2 linked regions of the Homo sapiens genome follow. The protein of the gene in region 1 purifies or fractionates together with the protein of each later gene. This does not show direct contact. Each region holds a gene or a part of one and is shown in the gene's direction. Other genes may lie near its edges. The genes, in order: RNPEP and HAVCR2.

Evidence for each region.
Region 2: the proteins of RNPEP (region 1) and HAVCR2 purify together in Homo sapiens (co-immunoprecipitation; one large-scale study listed by IntAct). This does not show direct contact.

What each region holds. Positions count from the first base shown.
Region 1 is NC_000001.11:202,002,977-202,006,790, forward strand, and holds the end of RNPEP (aminopeptidase B), read left to right. Parts: intron 1-147; exon of another isoform or gene 148-260; coding exon 261-485; intron 486-1,377; coding exon 1,378-1,520; intron 1,521-2,581; coding exon 2,582-2,740; 3' UTR 2,741-3,167; downstream 3,168-3,814. UniProt on the Homo sapiens protein: Exopeptidase which selectively removes arginine and/or lysine residues from the N-terminus of several peptide substrates including Arg(0)-Leu-enkephalin, Arg(0)-Met-enkephalin and Arg(-1)-Lys(0)-somatostatin-14.
Region 2 is NC_000005.10:157,098,935-157,102,750, reverse strand, and holds part of HAVCR2 (hepatitis A virus cellular receptor 2 precursor), read left to right. Parts: intron 1-3,816. UniProt on the Homo sapiens protein: Cell surface receptor implicated in modulating innate and adaptive immune responses. Generally accepted to have an inhibiting function.

The sequences.
Region 1 (3,814 bases):
CATCCACCAACTTGGCTCTGACAACACAGTGCTAATTTGGAGCGAAAAGCACTTTCACGGTCGAAACGGCACAGTCTCTAGATGTCGTTATAACTAGGACCCTGCTGGAGCGAATAGTTACATGGGAAAGTAATGTTAAATGCTGGGGAAAGAGTTTGGGATGGAGAGAGGAGAAACTTGAGGTCTCTGGGAGTTGCTTAAACCAGTTGACCGTAACCTGGCCAGAGAATTCTGATAGTGTCTTCTCTCCTCCCAAACAGGTTTTGAGTTTGATCGATGGCTGAATACCCCCGGCTGGCCCCCGTACCTCCCTGATCTCTCCCCTGGGGACTCACTCATGAAGCCTGCTGAAGAGCTAGCCCAACTGTGGGCAGCCGAGGAGCTGGACATGAAGGCCATTGAAGCCGTGGCCATCTCTCCCTGGAAGACCTACCAGCTGGTCTACTTCCTGGATAAGATCCTCCAGAAATCCCCTCTCCCTCCTGGTAAGAAAAAATGGTGAACCAGGGCTCCTTGTGTGCACAGCTTTATGTCAGGGGCTAGAGGGAGGCTCACAAAAAGTAGTGATGCTTGCCCCTAGGGAACTGCCACGTACACTAGGGAGGCTGGCACTCCACAAGGAATGTGCCACCGGGAGGTTATGGGTTAGGGGACTGCCACGTACACTAGGGAGGCTGGCACTCCACAAGGAATGTGCCATCGGGAGGTTATGGGTTCTACTTACAAGCACCTCAAGGACAAAGTCACAAAGCCTGGCATTGCTCAAGTCCGAAGCTCCTGCAGGCGACTCTTGTAAGGCTTTTGTGTCTATTAAGTCATTTAATTCCCACAACTCCTCTGGGAAGTAGGCGGTGTGATGTTAATACCCAGGTGACAGAATGAACTTGAGGTACAAACAGTTCGCACAGAACCCAGTCATCCAGAGCTCTCAACCTCTAATGCTTTGTGGCTGCTCAGTCAACATAATATTCACCAAGGGGTTAAAAAAAAGTTAGAGCCAAGATGACTTTTAGCAGATGAGTGGTAGGAGAAAAAATGGGACAGATATTGGGGGAATATGTCTGCTTTAATCTTGCTCTGTCGACCAGGCTGGAGTGCCGTGGTGCTATTGGCTCACAGCAACCTCCACCTTCTGAGTTCAAGTGATTCTTGATTCTAGCACCTCAGCCTCCAAGTAGCTGGGATTACAGGCGTGCGCCACCACACCCGGCCAGTTTTGTTTGGTATTTTTAGTAGAGATGGGGTTTCGCCATATTGGCCAGGCTGGTCTCACATTCCTGACCTCAAGTGATCCGCCCACCTCAGCCTCCCAAAATTCTAGTATTACAGGTGTGACCCACCGTGACCAGCCACAAACCATTTCTTTCTCTTCTCCAGGGAATGTGAAAAAACTTGGAGACACATACCCAAGTATCTCAAATGCCCGGAATGCAGAGCTCCGGCTGCGATGGGGCCAAATCGTCCTTAAGAACGACCACCAGGAAGATTTCTGGAAAGTGAAGGAGTTCCTGCATAACCAGGTGGGTGACCCCTGCCTCGCTGTTCCCGAAAGCACACTGGGACCCACTCGGCCATATGTGAAGTAATCATGTGGGCAGGGCTCATCTAGGACTCATCTGAGGCACAGAGGGAGGGGCAAATGACCTGAGGACCCTACCACTCAGCCTCTTTACTAGTGTGGCTTTGAAGGCATTGCCCTAGGGACAAGAGGAGGCCTGCAGGCTTGCAGTGCTTTCTGCAATTCAGCTGGTGAGACCCCAGGGAAAAAAGCTGGCCAGAGCCAACGCAGAGGCGGGAAAGAGGGTGACAGTGTCATGTGGGAAACACAAGAGGGAAAGGGGCCAGAGGCGGAGCAAGAGGAACAAAGGCTTGGAGGATAGGTCCCTGCTGCCCTGTGACTTGGGCATGATCGGGACAGCAGCCAGACCCTCTGTCACTATGTGAAAGTTGCCCTGTTGGGGAAAGGCCCCGGGCTCTCAGGATGAACTGAATGTCATCAGATTCCGGAGCAGGGAGGGGCTGGACCGGAGACGAAGCATTGCTCTGCATAAAGTCAGGGCTGCCTGCCTGTTCGGGGATATTCTGAGCCCTTTGATGGCTTCCTCAAGGCTCTGGATTTTAGGAACTTGTGATGTCGCTGGCTTATATTTGTGTGAATTTGACCTGTGGGTTGACCTGTGGGTTTTCCTTTGCTTGACTGCAGCTGGACCGTATGCGGCTGTGAGCTTTATGTGCCGCAGCTGCTGATATCTGCTATTCACGTGGTGGCTCACCACCTACACCTTTCCAGAAGTCTGGAATCCCATTGTGTCCACCCAACTCATTCATTTTGTTGACTGTAGACGTCCCCATGTTAGTATGGATTGGGACGCGTATTGAGATCCATCTCCATGGATCTCTGGCGCCCAAGAAGATGCCTGAATTAGAGCACTTCTGATGAGAAGCTCCTCATTCCAGCTGTGATGCCCACATCCCTTTTAGCACCTAGCCATGGCTGCTGTTAGACTGGCACTGGGGGCAGCAGGGCTGGACAGATCCACCAGGCAAGCTTCTTAGGCATGTGTATGTGTGTTTCTTGCAGGGGAAGCAGAAGTATACACTTCCGCTGTACCACGCAATGATGGGTGGCAGTGAGGTGGCCCAGACCCTCGCCAAGGAGACTTTTGCATCCACCGCCTCCCAGCTCCACAGCAATGTTGTCAACTATGTCCAGCAGATCGTGGCACCCAAGGGCAGTTAGAGGCTCGTGTGCATGGCCCCTGCCTCTTCAGGCTCTCCAGGCTTTCAGAATAATTGTTTGTTCCCAAATTCCTGTTCCCTGATCAACTTCCTGGAGTTTATATCCCCTCAGGATAATCTATTCTCTAGCTTAGGTATCTGTGACTCTTGGGCCTCTGCTCTGGTGGGAACTTACTTCTCTATAGCCCACTGAGCCCCGAGACAGAGAACCTGCCCACAGCTCTCCCCGCTACAGGCTGCAGGCACTGCAGGGCAGCGGGTATTCTCCTCCCCACCTAAGTCTCTGGGAAGAAGTGGAGAGGACTGATGCTCTTCTTTTTTCTCTTTCTGTCCTTTTTCTTGCTGATTTTATGCAAAGGGCTGGCATTCTGATTGTTCTTTTTTCAGGTTTAATCCTTATTTTAATAAAGTTTTCAAGCAAAAATTAAGTTACGGATTGAGTGACTATTAAATTTCTTCCACCAGAGGTCCTCACTGTGTTTGTTCAGGAAAGGTCACTGGGGGAGGCCCAGAGAATGACAGTATTTTCCTGTCCTCAGGGAACAGCCAGGGTGAAGGAGGTGGGTGTCCTACACATGCATATGAAAAAAAATATGGCAAAATGGCACAGCTGGTGCAGGAAAATGAAAAAGGAATAGCATTCCAGTTCTCCGTGAAGCAGCTGAATTCTCTATCTGCAGCAGCATTCCCATTATCTTTTCCATCACTAAGAAAAAAAAATGGGCTGGGCACGGTGGCTCATGCCTGTAATCCCAGCACTTTGGGAGGCTGAGGCGAGAGGATCGCTTGAGCCCAGGAGTTTGAGACCACCCTGGCCAACATAGCAGGACTTCATCTCTACCAAAAAAAAAAAAAAAAAAAAAAAAAAGCCAGGCGTGGTGGCTCACGCCTGTAATCTCAACACTTTGGGAGGCTGAGGCAGGCAAATCACTTGAGGTCAGAAGTTTGAGACCAGCATGGCCAACATGGTGAAACCCCATCTCTACTGAAAAAAAAGATAGATGCAAAAATTAGCCAGGCATGGTGGCTCACACCTGTAGTTCCAGTTACTTGGGAGGCTGAAGCAGGAGAAACA
Region 2 (3,816 bases), on another chromosome or scaffold:
GGTGGCCATGCTGGTCTCGAACTCCTAACCTCAGGTGATCCCTCTGCCTCGGCCTCCCAAAGCGCTGGGATTACAGGTGTAAGCCACCACGCCCAGCCTTCCCTTTAGTTTTTGTTTGTTAGTTCCTTCCCTCTAGGGCAACAAAAATGGGAATATAGGAATAATACCTCGAACCTCTGAGCTTCTCAAGGGCCTGACTGAGAAAAAATATTGAAACAACCAAAAATAGGTCAGTAGCTCCTAAATAGGAAAATAAAATAAAAAATTGAAATGAATGAATATTTAATGGTTTGTCTATAATATGTAACATTATGTAAATTGGCTGCTGGCAAACCAACTCTAAATGTGGGATGTGGGAGCATTTAATATAAAAATGGGGCTGGGCACAGTGGCTCACATGTGTAATCCCAGCACTATGGGAGGCCAAGGCAGGCAGATCACTGGAGCTCAGGAGTTCAAGACCAGCCTGGGCAACATGGCAAAACCCCATCTCTACTAAGAATACAAAAAATTAGGCTGAGTGCAGTGGCTCACACCTGTAATCCCAGCACTTTGGGAGGCCAAGGCAGATGGATCACCTGAGGTCAGGAGTTTAAGCCAGCCTGGCCAAGATGGTGAAACCCCTGTCTCTACTAAAAATACAAAAATTAGCTGGTCATGGTGGTGCATGCCTATAATTCCAGCTACTCAGGAGGCTGAGGCAGGAGAATTGTCTGAGCCTGGGAGGAGTGAACCGAGATCTCACCACTGTCCTGAAGCCTGGAAAACAGAGCGAGATTCCATCCCAAAAAAAAAAAAAAAAAAAAAAATAGCCGGGCATGGTGGCATGTGCCTGTAGTCCCAGCTACTTGGCAGGGCTGAGGCAGGAAGATTGCTTGAACTCAGGAGGTTGAGGATTCACTGAGCCGAGTTGGTGCCACTGTACTCCAAACCTGGGCAACAGAGCGAGACCCTTTCTCAGAAAAAAAAAAAAAAAAAATGGAGTAGAGCCTTTAAAAGTAAGAGATCCAAGGGCCTGGAATTTGAACACAGAACAAATGCAACTTGTCTTCTACCTGAAGGAGTAAGGACTGGGTCACAGGTGAGTCCTCAGCTCTAGAGTAGATCTGCTTTAAATCCTAGCTTTCCCAATTAATAGCTGTGTGATCTTGGGCAAAGTGGCTCTCTCAGACTCAGTATCTTCATCTGAAAAATGGGGAAAATAGTAGTACCTACTTATTGTGGTTGAGGATTAAATGAGATTGTATGTATATGGTGCTAAGCACCATGTCTGGCACCTAATAAGTACCAAATAGATGGTAACTACTAAATTTATACACTGTTAAGGCCATCACATCTCACCTCCGCTGCTACCTGCCCCACCAGGCAAATCTTGGTTTCTCCAGAAAGAACATTGCCACTCCCTTCAACTGTCCCATCCATCTTGGTTGGTGGCCAAATCTGTGTGAAAAAAAGCTGTAATGACACAACAGTGCTTGATTTTACTGATCATTTTCATAGCAAAATGAAGTTTTTAAAAAGTTAGTTTTACCATTTTTATCAAGAAAAATAATTATAAGGAGTCTGAAACTGGATTTACATTTAAAATCTTATGTGCACTTAAGATTCATGTTTACTTAGCAGTTGTACTGATGAGGGTCTTTTTTTTATTTTTTTGATATGGAGTCTTGCTCTGTCACCAGGCTGGAGTGCAATGGTGTGATCTCGGCTCACTGCAACCTCCACCTCCTGGGTTCAAGCGATTCCACTGCCTCAGCCTCCTGAGTAGCTGGGACTACAGGCGTACACCACCACGCCCGGCTAATTTTTTGTATTTTAGTAGAGATGGGGTTTCACCATATTGGCCAGGATGGTCTCGATCTCCTGACCTCGTGATCTGCCTGCCCTCGGCCTCCCAAAGTGCTGGGATTACAGGTGTGAGCCACTGCACCAGGCCTGTGGTTTTTATATTTTAAATTTTTTTCTGGTAATTAGGGCAAAAGTAATTGGAACATAATCTTTTTTTCTTCAATAATTTTAGGCTGAGGCTATGCCTTTATAATATTTAAACTATAGTTTGCTAAACCAGCATTTAGTCAAACCCTTTATACACATTAAGGCTTCCAGAAGGTGACAGTGACATTTAAGAAGTTTCAACATCTCTGACTCAGCCATAAAAATGAGTAAGCATGCTTAGTTTTCCAAAAGCTGGCAATGTACTTATTTTTAGAATTCAGTGTTCATGAGGTCAGGGCCTGTGCCCCTCTTGTTTCCTGCTCTGTCCCCTGTGCCTAGAGTAAGGGCATAGTGCATATTCATGGAATGGATCAGCAGATGAAGAAATAAACAAATGAACAGGAAGGAAAGATGGTGAGTGGGTGGCTGGGCAACGTGACCCTCTTCATAATGACAGCACTGAGGTAAGGGCTGGTGAAGGCAGTATAATTAAGAATGTGCATTTAAGGCTATGCAGACCTAAATTGGAAGGCCATTTTGTCATTTGCTAAGTCATGTGACCTTGGGTTAGTCACTTCACTTCCCTAATTTTCAGTTTCTTCATCTGTGCAATGGGACTAACAGTCTCTACTTTAGAAGCGTAGTTCTAAAGTAAGTGCTTCTAAGTATCTCTAAAATGAGCTTCTTCACTGAAAGAGTTTATTTAGCACAAGGCCTGGCTCCTATTACATTGTGACCACAGTGATTATTTTCATTTGTTGGCAACCCTGTCTCCCTTCTCATGAGTAAATGCAAAACTTATTTAAGAAAATGGAGGCTGGGCACGGCACGGTGGCTCACGCCTGTAATCCCAGCACTTTGGGAGGCCGAGGCGGGTGGATCACTTGAGGTCAGGAGTTCGAGACTAGCCTGGCCAACATGGCGAAACCCCGTCTCTACTAAAAATACAAAAATTAGCTGTGTGTGGTGGTGTGCCCCTGTAGTCCCAGCTACCAGGGAGGCTGAGGCAGGAGAATCGCTTGAACTCAGGAGATGGAGGTTGCAGTGAGCAGAGATCATGCTACTGCACTCCAGCCTGGGTGATAGAGTGAGATTCTGTCTCGCAAAAAGAAAAAAAAGAAAAAGAACATGGAGGTTGCAGTGAGTTGAGATTGTGCCACTGCACTCCAGCCTGGGCAACAGAGTGAGACTGTCTCAAAAAAACAAAAAAGAAGGAAATGAATTTTTGTTGTCTTTTAAAATCTAATTAGAATATAATGCCTGAGGCCAAGCCTGGTCGTTCACACCTGTAATCCCAGCATTTTGGGAGGCTGAGGTGGGCAGATCACCTGAGGTCAGGAGTTCACAACCAGCCTGGTCAACATGGCCTCGTCTCTACTAAAAATACAAAAATTAGCTGGGCGTGGTGGTGCATGCATGTAGTCCCAGCTACTTGGGAGGATGAGGGATGAGAATTGCTTGAACCAGGGAGGCCGAGGTTGCGGTGAGCTGAGATTATGCCACTGCACTCCAGCCTGGGTGACAGAGTGAAATTCTGTGTCTAAATAAATAAATAAATAAATAATGCCTGAGTCTTATCAATATTGCTAGATGTTTGTAGAACTCATTAGGGTCCTGTGAAAAAAACAAAGCACATATTTAATGTAGGACTTCCTGGCAGAAGTCTCTATTTCATAAAACAGTACGGTTCATTATCTAGATGAAAAAATGTGGCCATCCTAAAGTTGATTCCTGGGTGTTCAGTAAATTTTGTCTGTCTCTCCATTAATTATTGTGACAAGTACGGAGTAGAATTCATTTCAAATAGGATTATAGGCATCATTAAGATTTTTTAAAAACTTAGATAAAAGAAAACGTTCTTAACTATACTATTGGCTATTT